Homo sapiens: one gene and its partner. The protein of the gene in region 1 interacts with the protein of each later gene in a pairwise test. Each region holds a gene or a part of one and is shown on either strand. Other genes may lie near its edges.

Evidence for each region.
Region 2: the proteins of RND2 (region 1) and USP47 interact in binary tests that used the Homo sapiens proteins (3 or more experiments, as listed by UniProt).

The regions. Positions count from the first base shown.
Region 1 is NC_000017.11:43,021,202-43,028,272, forward strand, and holds the start of RND2 (rho-related GTP-binding protein RhoN), read left to right. Parts: upstream 1-4,029; 5' UTR 4,030-4,146; coding exon 4,147-4,248; intron 4,249-4,300; exon of another isoform or gene 4,301-4,320; coding exon of another isoform or gene 4,321-4,338; intron 4,339-4,758; coding exon 4,759-4,846; intron 4,847-5,981; coding exon 5,982-6,091; intron 6,092-6,859; coding exon 6,860-6,994; intron 6,995-7,071. Other genes in the region: VAT1 (synaptic vesicle membrane protein VAT-1 homolog), read right to left, coding at 735-1,121.
Region 2 is NC_000011.10:11,956,972-11,962,429, forward strand, and holds the end of USP47 (ubiquitin carboxyl-terminal hydrolase 47), read left to right. Parts: 3' UTR 1-4,916; downstream 4,917-5,458. UniProt on the Homo sapiens protein: Ubiquitin-specific protease that specifically deubiquitinates monoubiquitinated DNA polymerase beta (POLB), stabilizing POLB thereby playing a role in base-excision repair (BER). Acts as a regulator of cell growth and genome integrity.

The sequences.
Region 1 (7,071 bases):
GGCCCGAAGGCTGAGGGCTGAGTCACAGGAGGAGGAGATACTGCAGTCACGGGAGACACAGAGCCCAAGACAAAGATCGGATGACCCAATCCCGCCTCCCCCACCCCAAAATCAGATCGGCGGTGTAAGGCTGGTGGCGGTGGGGTAGCAAAGGCTCTCTCTCCTCCGTGATGGGCGTGTCTCGTCTCTTTGGCCTTGCTTTGGGAGGGGCCGCCTCACACCCCCACAGACCACGGGGCTGCATGTGACCAGGACTCTGGCACGGCCGCTGTGCCCCCGCCCAACCCCGACGACATAGCCCCTCAAGCTCCCTCGGGGAAAGGGGGCACTAACCGTCACTCATAGTCACAGACCACAATTACCCAGAGAGTGTTTGGTGGGTAGGGGTACAGGTGTGGTTTTAATGGGGGGGGGGGGGGGGGGTGGGGACGGTAGTGTGGTTGTGCGCATGCGCATGGGCACCTTATTGTTTTCCCCCCCACCAGCACAGCTTCTGGGCGGCGGCCACAACTAAAAATGGTTGGGGAAGGGGCGATAATTTCGTCTCCCCTCCCCACATAAATGCCGCTCTCCAGGAGCCCCCAAACACAAGTTCCTTGGCTACGCTTTCCACGCTCGTGCACCCAGGTCCGCGCCAGTTTCTCCCGCCCTGCCACACCCCCGGCGCTCGCCCACTCGTGCCCCACTGCCCAGTGGCCTGCGCAGCCCTGCCCTGCCCTACGCAACCCGCTCACCTTGCGGTCGCTGACTCCCTCGCCCACTGCGATCACAACACCCGCGCCCTCCATGCCCGGAGTGACAGGCAGAGGCGGGAGACGGTCGTACAGCCCCTGCCTAGCCATGAGGTCTGCGAAGTTGAGCCCGCAGGCCCGCAGACGCAGCGTCAGCTGGCCGGGCCCAGGGGCCGGGGGCGCTGCCGGCCGGCTCTGCAGCTTCACCTTGTCGTAGCCTCCAAAGCCGGTGAGCACTAGGCAGCGCAGCAGTGGCGGCGAGGCGGCGGCGGCGGCGGCCCCTTCGGAGGCCGCGGGATGCTGGGGGTCGCTCGCTGCCTCGGTTTTCGGAGGCGGCGAAGAGGCGTCTTCCCCGGTCGCTGCCTCGGCTACCTCTCTCTCGTCGGACATGGCTGGGACTCCCGACGAGAGCGCACAGCTGGATGGAGAGTGCACAGCTGGGGAAGGCGGAACGCGTCGGGAAGAGCCGCGGCTGCGGGATCCAGCGGGAGGGGCGGGGCGCCGGGCGAGGCGGGGCCTCGCGCTCAGCCTTAAAGGGCCAGGGCCATAGTGGCGCAAGCTGGGAGAGCACGAAAAGGGGCACCAGGAACGTCTGTGCTCTTGGGATCAAGCCGACTGTGATTTATTTATTCATAGTAAACCTTATTCAAATTAAAAACTATTTTAAGGGATAGGCCTGGCGCGGTGGCTCACGCCTGTAATCCCAGCACTTTGGGAGGCCGAGGCTGGTGGATCATTTGAGGTCAGGAGTTCAAGACCAGCCTGGCCAACATGGTGAAACCCCCGTCTTTACTAAAAATAAAAAAGTTAGCCGGGCGGTAGTGGCGCGCGCCTGTAATCTCAGCTACTTGGGAGGCTGAGGCAGAGGAATCGCTTGAGCCTGGGAGGCGGAGGTGAGCCGAGATCGCGCCACTACACTCCAGTCTGGGCAACAGAGTGAGACCCTGTTAAAAAAAAAAAAAAAAAGGGCCGGGCGGCGTGGCTCACGCCTGTAATCCCAACACTTTGGGAGGCCGAGGCGGGTGGGTGGATCACCTGAGGTCAGGAATTCGAGACCAGCCTGACCAGTATGGTGAAACCCCAGCTCTACTAAAACTACAAAAATTAGCCAGGCATGGTGGCAGGTGCCTATAGTCCCAGCTACTAGGGAGGCGGAGGCTGGAGAATTGCTTGAACCCAGGAGGCGGAGGTTGCAGTTAGCCAAGATCATGCCGCTGCACTCCAGCCTGGGCTACAGAGGGAGACTCCATCTCGAAAAAAAAAAAGGCCGGGCGCGGTGTCTCACGCCTGTAATCCCAGCACTTTGGGAGGCCGAGGCGGGCAGATTACGAGGTCAGGAGATTCACCTGGCTAACACGGTGAAACCCCGTCTCTACTAAAAAATACAAAAAATTAGCCAGGCGTGGTGGCAGGCGCCTGTAGTCCCAGCTACCTGGGAGGCTGAGGCAGGAGAATGGCATGAACCCAGGAGGCAGAGCTTGCAGTGAGTCGAGATCGCGCCACTGCACTCCAGCCTGGGCTACAGAGCGAGACTCCGTCTCAAAAAAAAAAAAAAAAAGTTAAGGAACAGTCCCAAAACTTGAACTTACATCAGATTTGGAGTTAACTCATATCAGATTTGGAGTCAGCCACCTGTGGACTGGAGTCCAACTACATTGTGTCTCAGGCTCTGACATCTAACCCAGGCAGGGATGAGACTTAATTCACTGTGGTCTTGCAGTGGCAAAGTAGAAGCATGGAGACCAAGCCTTTAAAACTTTCTGACTTTGGTGTTAACGTTCTGTTCCTCATTTTCCCTTCTGTAACATAGTGATGATGCTGCGTGCTCTAGTTATATTTATATTTTTATTTTTTTGATACAGGGTCTCACTCTGTCACCCAGGCTGAGCGAGGTGGGGCGATCACAGCTCCCTACAGCCTCAAACTCCCGGCTTCAAGCAATCCTCCCACCTCAGCCTCCTGAATAGCTGGGACCACAGGCATGTGTCACCACGCCCGGCTAACTTTATGTTTTACTGCTCTTTGCAGAGCAGGGCTACCCCATAGGCAGCGTGCCTAGAGTGGCCAAACCTAGCTAAGTTTTGATTTTTTTTTCTAGAGAGAGGGTCTCGCTAATGTTGCCCAGGATGGCCTCAAACTCCTGCACGCAAGCAAGCCTTGGCCTCCCAAAGTGCTGAGTTTACAGGCGTGAGCCACCGCGCCCAGCTTCTAGTTATCTTTACAGAATTATTTGCAGCATATATTATTGACTCGAATTGCCTCGATATAAAAAAGCACTTTTTTTTTTTCGAAACTCTATTGCACAAGCTGGAGTGCAGTGAGGCAATCTCGGCTCACTGCAAGCTCCGCCTCCCGGGTTCACGCCATTCTCCTGCCTCAGCCTCCTGAGTAGCTGGGATTACAGGCGCCCACCGTGCGGGTTTCACCGTGTTAGCCAGGATGATAGTCTCGATCTCCTGACCTCTTGATCCGCCCGCCTCGGCCTCCCAAAGTGCTGGTATTACAGGCGTGAGCCACCGCGCCCGGCCTATTGTCAGACTCTTAATCAAGCCTGACTTTTGGGTTTAGCTCTGGCTCCAGCAGAGCAACTCTGGCGGTTGGTTCTTTCTCTTCCTTATCTCCTTGTCCCCAAGCATCCACCAGAGGACGCAGCTCCCCCAAAACTTTCCACCCAGTGCTTGGCTGGAGGAACTCAGTCCACGCTTCTCTGCTAGTCTAGGCCGGCGGTTAAGTCAATGTAACCGGAGACCCGGCTGCCCGTTGCCATGGGGACGGAAAGCTATGATGTCACCACCGTCCGGGTGGGTGTGCTGGGGTTCACCCTCCCATTTCCCCAAGACCCCCTGCCAGGACATAGGCGGACGCGGGAGAGAAAACCAAAGAGGCTCCCTCCTTCCCCTTAGCATCTCTCTCCCGCCGTGTTCAGGAAGTGGATGGCTGCCCCAGCTCTTGTCCGCACTGGTACACCTGCGTGCACGCGTGGGTACACAGCAGGCCCGAGCTTCGCGCTTGTGCCGCTCATATTCTACCCCTAAGAACTTCGCTTGAACTCTGACCTGCCCTTATATCCGAGAAAGTCAAATAAGCCCAGTTCGGCCTGTCCCAAACCGGCAGGGGCCCCTCAGACCACACCGGCGGGCTGGACCCCGGCTCTGAGGCCTCTGTTCCCAGGGCTCCGCCCAGATCTTCTGGGCCCCGCCCCCCGGCTGCGGGGGTGGGAGGAGGGGCCGGGGGGGCGCGGCCGCCTGGCTGGGGGCGGGGCGGAGGGGGGGCCGCGGACCCGGGGCGGGGGCTCGGCGCGGGCCCGCGAGATGCCGGTGTTGGCGGCCCGAGCGGCTGCAGTTGCAGGGGCGGGGGAGGCGGCGGCGGGGCCCGGGAGAGGGGTGGCGTGGGGGACCGGCGCGTAGCCGGGACCATGGAGGGGCAGAGCGGCCGCTGCAAGATCGTGGTGGTGGGAGACGCAGAGTGCGGCAAGACGGCGCTGCTGCAGGTGTTCGCCAAGGACGCCTATCCCGGGGTGAGGGACCTGCGTCTTGGGAGGGGGACGCTAAGGCTGCTGGGGGGTGGGTGACAGGGGCCCTGGCGACGGATGGGAATGGGTACTCGGGTAACCAGGGACAAGAGACAGGGGGTCGGAGGACGCGGGGAGGCCTTGAGGGCTCAGGAAGGACTGCAGAGGATTGGGGTGGGAGGAATTAGGGAGCAGGGTGAGATAGATGGGGTTTGGGAGAACCAGAGCATCCGGGAGGGAGGGCGAGGGGAATGTCGGAGGTCCTGGGCAATGGAGAGGGGAAGAACTAGGGGGCTGAAGGGACCAGAAGGGAACAGGAGGAGGTCTGGGAGCTTAGCAGAGATTCTCCGGGGGGGGGGGGGGGGGGGCAGGAGCTCCCGGGATCTCCCCTTTGCCCAATCCCAGACCAACTTGTGTCCAGGGGCTGGGCTGGACGGGGTGTGGGAGTGAGGAGGGCATTTATCTGGGGTGAGGACTTGGAGAGATGATCTCATCTGGATCCATCCGTGTCTGCAGAGTTATGTCCCCACCGTGTTTGAGAACTACACTGCGAGCTTTGAGATCGACAAGCGCCGCATTGAGCTCAACATGTGGGACACTTCAGGTAGCCAAGTCCCTGGGGGTCACCCTGACTTCCAAGGCGGCCCACTCTGTCCCCTCCCTTGGTTAGACCCTTAGGTTCCAGGTAAGCCCAGCCCATCCATCCAATTCCAACAGGAAGGGAAAAATCAATATTCTGCTAAAATCCAGGGAAACTGAGGTAGAACTTGCAGAGCCTGACAGAAACCATGTCCTGAAGGAGAAAGCCTAGGATCTGAGCCCCTCAGCTGGGTCCTGCCTACCTGGGAAAGTTGGGAAGGAATGGCTTTTAATTTGGAACATGTTCCTTCAGAGATAAGACTGGGTTTAGAAAAGACATTTAGAGGCCAGGCACGGTGGCTCACGCCTGTAATCCTAGCACTTTGGGAGGCTGGGGTGGGGGGATCACCTGAGGTCAGGAGTTTGAGACCAGCCTGGCCAACATGGTTGAAACTCCGTCTCTACTAAAAATACAAAAATTAATCGGGCGTGTGGCACGTGCCTGTAATCTCAGCTACCAGGAGGCTGAGGCAAGAGAATCGCTGGAACCTGGGAGGCGGAGGCTGCAGTGAGCCGAGATCATGCCGCTGCACTCCAGCCTGAGCGATAGAGCGAGACTCCATCTCAAAAAATAAAAAAGCAGAAAAGACATTTAGAATGTCTTGAGTGAGGGGTGGTCAGGAGGCTGTTTCTCTCCATTGAACTAGATAAATCTGAGGTCAAGTCCCAGGAGAATGGGAGAGTGCTCTCCCTGCCACTGCTCTTTTCCTCCTCCCAACATAAGGAGGGTTTTTATTTTTACAAGAGTTCCCTTCAGGGCTTTAGACTGCCAAAGCCCAGAAAGCACATGCAACATTTTATGAGAATGTCTATAGATTTTATGAGCTTCTCAAAGGGGTCCAAACCTCAGTCAAGAATAAAAATTATTACTTTTTAAACCACTAGGGAAGCAGAGAGCCGTTTCCCACCATGTGACCTCCCTTCTGCCCGCTCCCCCACTTGGGAAACCCAGACTCCATGATGGGTATTAATGATGGGTATTAATGGTTGCTCTTTTCCATTCTCTGCTCCCAGCATCCCTTGACCAGGATCTGTAAGGTCTCCCATTCCCTTCCAGGCCTCCCATCCACTCAGGCCCCTCATGCCCTGTCTTCCTTCAGGTTCCTCTTACTATGATAATGTCCGGCCTCTGGCCTATCCTGATTCTGATGCTGTGCTCATCTGCTTCGACATTAGCCGACCAGAAACACTGGACAGTGTTCTCAAGAAGGTGGGAGCCTGGGGAAATAGGGCAGCTAGACTGAGGGGGACCAGACCACCATGGTCCTGACATAACATGGGCCAGGAGGAGGGAGTGATGGCTGGGGTATGGCCATCAGCTGGTTAGCGAGTGAAGCTCTCATCCCTGCCACCCCTGCCTCCAGCCCCCATCCCTCCCAGCCACCCCTTTCCTGAAAGTCCTCAGAGCTGGATACAGCAGCTAGGGGAGGTGGGGGAGTGAAGGGAGAAGCACTCACAGGATTCCTTCTCTGCTCTTCCAACTCCTTGGCAGTGGGAGTCCCAGATGGAGGGGATGGGATGGGAAGCCTGATCCTGGAGCTCAGGAAAGCCCTGTGGCCTCCTCTCCAGGCCCCAGTTTCCATGACAAAAGCCAGGGGTGAATGGACAGAAGTCAGCTAGGGCAGCCCCAGTTCCCAGGTGGGGGAGGGGAGGGTGGGATAAATTTGTTCCCAGGAGAGAGTATGGGAAAGGCGAGTGGGAATGGGAAGTTTCCAGGCTGGCAGACCCTTCATAGCCACTGAGGGAGAAGAGTCCACAGGCCCACGCCAGCCCTCTCCTCCCCGCTGCTTCTCTCTCACCCCATCCTGCTCTCAAACCAAGCCTAGCATTCTCACCTCCTTCCTCATGTGGGAGAGTCCTGAGGGATACATGGTTTCTGCGTGCTTGAGGAAGAGAGGGCACACTGCTGGCATGGCACAAAGGCTCACGCTGTGCCTCCCTCCACCCCTCCACAATTCTCTTTTCTTCTCCTACATAGTGGCAAGGAGAGACTCAAGAGTTCTGCCCCAATGCCAAGGTTGTGCTGGTTGGCTGTAAACTGGACATGCGGACTGACCTGGCCACACTGAGGGAGCTGTCCAAGCAGAGGCTTATCCCTGTTACACATGAGCAGGTGGGACCCTTGACGTCTGACCTCATCCCAGCCTAGACCTGTCACCTCTGCCCCTTCAGTCTCTGATTTGAAAACAC
Region 2 (5,458 bases), on another chromosome or scaffold:
ATTCTTTTCACGTATCATTCATTCTGTACATTTGTGTACATTGAGAAGTATAGCAATCTATGTAAATGTAATCCTCAGTGAGGTTCCTCAGTGCTAGGTCCCATAGGATTGTCGTTGCCCTTGTTAATGAGGTTTCTCTGTTCAGCGGCTTCAATTTTTTTCTCTTTGTACATCTAGTTTTGAAGATTTACTTCAAGTTTGAATCTTCTAGAATGCTTGTAAGTCCAGTTTTAATTTTTAGAGTCAATTTGTAGTTACATGTAGTTTAACTTTTGGGAAACGTCTTAACATTGTTCTGAATAAACTTGCTAATGAGGTCAGGTCATGGTACAGACTGATGCAGTCAACATGATTTCATTGCAGAGTTTATTAGTATCAGCAAGTTTTTGCTTTGCTAAATAAAAGTACTCAATGAACACAATTCTACATAAATTTTGACATACCATCTAATTTATAAAAATCAATAAAAAAGGTTTTGGTAAAACTTTTTCATGCCAGATGCTGTTTACAACAATGAACATGCCAATAAAACATTTGTTCATTCTGTTGTGTTATTTTAGTCATTAAACTTCTGTGGATGAAGAATCTGGGTTAAGAATAGATTTGTCATCTTTAAATATGACATTTTGTAATGTGTATTGGATATCTCATTTCTATGATAAAGGTATATTTACAGTAAAGTTCTCATAAGAGAAATGAAAAGCTGTGTTAATATCTAACTTTGGGGAACCCTGTCAGTATTTCAGATCCGATTTTTACCCTTTTTTTCTTATAAGAAAGATAAAATTAGAAAATACTGTTAGCAAATGTGGCTCTGCCATTTGAATATAATCACCGAGAATTCCATGTCTTAAAAGTCTCCTGGAATCCACAATGAAAAAAAAAATCTTTTCTAAGGTATTTTTCTGGCTAATTTTTATTTGAAGAAAGCTATAGCATTTAGCGAAATTTGACTGAAGTAATGTTCTGAGTTTGCATTAGTGGGATTGGTGATGTTCTCAGAAGAAAATTGGAAACACTTGTGATGAATTGTCTTTCAGATCACTTAGATTTTCTGATGTAAGAGGACAGCTGTTTGGTTCTGATACAGGCCTGCTTACTTGGGATGTAGGGTTAGTAAATGGGGTTTCTGCTTTAAAGGACTGACTTGCTATCACACAAAAGAGGCAGACTTGTAAACACAATGGGCTTTGGAGTTTGGTCTGATTGGGTTTGGTTTAGTATTCCTATGAGCGTAAATGGTAAAATTCTTCTGATACCCACTCTTTAGACTGTGCCTTCTGCTCTGTTCTTTGTTTTATGTTTAACTGCTGTTTCTAATTGCAGGTGTATTACAGATACAAATAAGAGTAAAGAAAATATATTTCATTATAGAAAAGAAAAAATTAAAAGCTTCTTGCTTTTCAGTGCCTGATAGAGTGAAAACACAAAGTTGCACTTTAATAATTTCAATAAAAGCTAATCTGTGTCAGCCTCCCTCTGCTTCAGAGAGTCAGGTGAGCATCCATAACCTAACAGGCAGAGCCCTAGCGATGTGGATCAAGTTTCCTGAGCCCGGGGGCGGTGGAGCCTCATGATCTCTTATCTTTTGAGGCTGAGGCAGGTCACATGCAACAAATTGTGACCCTGCTCCCCACAAGTCATGCAAAGGTTTTGAAGAGCTTTTACCGTGGGGCAGATGAACTTGTGTCAACCATGCACACCCTGTGAGAACCAAGTACCTGTGTTTCTAAGGCGGGCACTCAAGGTGAGGGGTGCATTCTGGCCAAAGAAACAAAAGCTGTGGTTTCAGGACCATGCCGTGTGTAGCTGATCTGTACGGGACGTGTATGTAAGGAAGAGCAATCATGATAGATAAGAACAGTGTGTGAAGCAGCCTTCACACTAGAGTGTTTGGTCATCTCTTATAATGTAAGGGAAGGTACTTTAAAATTCTGGGAAGATGCGATGAACTCATGTCCCAGTCAGAAAATAATCCAATGAAATAAGCATTGGTTGCCAGGCCACAGTTAGGAATTGTATTGTGATACATCTAGAGGCCAAGAGAGCAGGAGAGAGCTACCAACTTACACTGTGGTTTAAGCTAAATGACCGCACAGCATCATAGCATTGCAGTGTTGTTACTAAATCTGGAAGTGACCTGTGAATGTATGGAATACAATAAAGTCTTTTATTCTGGTTCATTTGCTAGTACTTCCTTTTTGATTGGATACTGTAGTTCTTCCTCTGGATTTTATTTTGTTCAGCGTCAAGGCCCTAATTTTGCAAATGTAGTCTAAACCACATTACGTGGACTAGAGGATACTCTGAATTAGCAAGTTTTTTGTTTGCTGAATAAAACTATTCCATCTTAACAATTCTGTGTAATTTTTGAAAAACATCAACATTTTGGTCACTAGTAGTCAAAATCTTATAAGGCCATATGTCCTGAAAGGCAAAACTCTGTGTATGTGCGATTTACCAGGGAGATAGTAGGACAGTTTTTATGAGGGTTTCAAAGGAGTTCATGGCCCAAATGAAGCTTGTGGCCACCTAGGTTTAGTGTACATGAAATTGGAAGATGCTTCTTGATTGTAGTTCCCATGGGGAAGAGGGAGGCTGTGATCATTTGGTTAGATACAGCATTAATTGTCACAACTTGACTTTCAGAAACAAGAATACTGCACAAACTCAAGCATGCATTGGAGCATGTGTTACTATTTAGAAAAGAGTGCAGCCATCAGTAGGTCAAGCTAGGAGGGCAAAAGAGAGTTGAGAGGAATGCTCTGCCCCTTCCCCATCACAGCACTGCCCCTTTCCACCTCCTCACCAGCTCACCTGTACAAGAGAATTGATCTCAACTGAGTGTCAGCTCACCAGGTCAGAAATTGTTATTGGACCCTAAAACCTTGCCTCACAGGTGGGCACCAAGCTCCCCTTCCCTCTGCTTTCCATGTTTCCCACCTGCCCTCTCCCCACCTGTTTTCAGCCTCTTTTATAATGCTTAAGTAACCTGCTTGAAGAGTATAATTTATGGAGATAAAAATACTCAATGCTTACATTTTTTTCATAACTGTGCCAATTGTTTTGTCAAATGCAGTTACCCACTGGGCAGTGGGCTTATCAAGTGCTCAGTGCAATCCTGTGACTTTTAAGTCATTTTGCATTATTAAGACAATCTTATCTTAAAGTTCAGTGGTTTCATTCAAAGCTCCCCTGAACCTCCATAGTGCCTCCAAGATGTGCTGTCCCTGCCAACTCCTGCACCAGCTTGACTGGTGGTGGAAGAGGCCAGGAAGAGCGGGGGGAAGACATGTGCTAACCACTTCTTAGCAATGAGGCTGGTAAGGTTACTGTCCCCTTGTGCCTGGTCACTAGTAACTTTTTTGTAGACATGAAGGTAGATGCCCTGCAGGTCCTATCAGCAAAGGACCCAACTCCTAACAGCATTGGTGCTCCCTCATGAAATTTGACAGTGTCTTGCCAGCCTCCTGCTGGCAGACACTTCTCTGCAGTGAATACCACTATCCCATGCTGCACTAGTCCCTACCAAGTCTTCAACCCTCAATTTGATCTTCCATGAGTGTCTCAAAAAGTTCCCCTCAGAAGTTTCAGCCAAGGGAATAAAATCTAACCTCTCCTCCCTCAACGGAGTGTCAGGGAGGGGAAGAATCTGTTTTCCAAACACCACAATCTCCCAAAAGGGGATTTCACCCTCCCTTGGTCATCTTTATACAGGGCAATTGTGCTGCTGCTGCTGAGGTGGCCACTTTCAGCAAGCCCTGTGTGCAGGGGCCTAGCTGCATTTAGAAACCAAGCATAGCTATCAAAAAGTAATCTCCAAATAGTTGAATTGCATTTCTTGAGTATCTGGAGAGGATGTGCAGACCACAGGAATACCTAATGCCTTTTTTCTCTTCCTGTCTTTGTCCCTCACACTACAGCAGGCCCCTCCCTTCCCTCTTCAACCTCATCCTCCCTCCCCACAGGCCCAGAGAACCAGTTGGGCTTTGTTCTCCTGCAGGCTATGGTTCATCATGCAAATAGCTCCTGTGTCAGAAATGCTTTTTGGCTTCAAATAACAGAAAAGCTAACACCAGCTTTATCAATAATAATATCGGTGGTTTACTTAAGGTGTCCAGAGATGGTGGAGAACAGGATTGGTTTCCTCCTCAATGTCAAGGACTCAAAGACTCTTTCTGTGGTAGGGCCACATCCTAAACCCTGTATCCTGTGATTATTTACCTGACAGGGCAAAAGAGATTTTGCAGATGCAATTAAGGTTAAGGACCTTGACGTGGGAAGATTGTGATTATTTACCTGACAGGGCAAAAGAGATTTTGCAGATGCAATTAAGGTTAAGGACCTTGACGTGGGAAGATTATTCTGGATTATCTAGGTGGGCGCAATTTGATCACATGGGTCCCCAGAAGTGGAGAACCTTTCCCACCTGTAGAAAGCCAGAGAGCTGGCACCTGAGAAGGACAGAACTGTCATTGCAGGATTTGAAGATGAAGGGGCCCATGAGCCAAGGAATGCCAGTGACCTATAGAGGCTAAAAAACAGCAAGGAAATGGACTCTCCCCAGAGCCTCCAGAGGAATGCAGCCCTGTTGATCACATGATCACCAGATGGCTGCCCCAGAGCCAAATGTCGCTTCCTGAGCACCATACTCAAAGGCAGGGGAAGTGGATGGAGGGCAGGAGCTCCATTCTTGTTTGCCACTCTCCTTTTGTCAATTGGGAAAAAATTCCAGAAACTCTGGGAGCCCTCCCCTTACATTTCCTGGGTCATGGGGCCAGCCCTAGCTGCTGGAGGGACTGAGAACAGCTGTTGAGCAGTTTACCTGACGGCATCTGCCATGGCTTGGCAGGAACTCTGGCTTTGGGAGAGAGCAGCAGCAAGGTATTCAAGCACCACCTCCACCCAGCCCCTCCCACATTTCACTCAGGACTGAGTAAAGGAGACACTCAGATGCTACTCAGATGCTGGCTTCAGCTAAGTATTTTGCAAAGCCTCTCGTGTTCTTACAAGTTTGTGGCTATCATGACAAAATGGAGCAGCCTACTATATCTACATATACAACTATGGGGGACCTAGTTTTATCTCATTTACCACAATGTTTTCAATCATTTTTTGGATGACATAATTTTTAGCCTCTTCTCTAAATGCTTCCTCAAGCTTTCCTTGCCTTCCAGCCACTGCAAATGACTTGCAGTTTCCCCTACATGGCACCTGACCCTTGTGCCTCCCTCCCTCTGCCCATGGCCCAGAAAGCCCTTTCCTGTGCCCTCTGGCTTCCTGATAAACTCCTATCATCTTCAAGAGCCAGTTCCCATGCCAGCTCTCCCCAAGTGCTCCACTGAGGCTTCCGTAACACCTCTGTTCCCACATCGGGTTGACTGTCTTTGTTTTGTCATTGCTTGCTCTGGCTGTGTCTCCCTCATTAGACTGGGATGCCTTCAAGGTAGGGACCCTA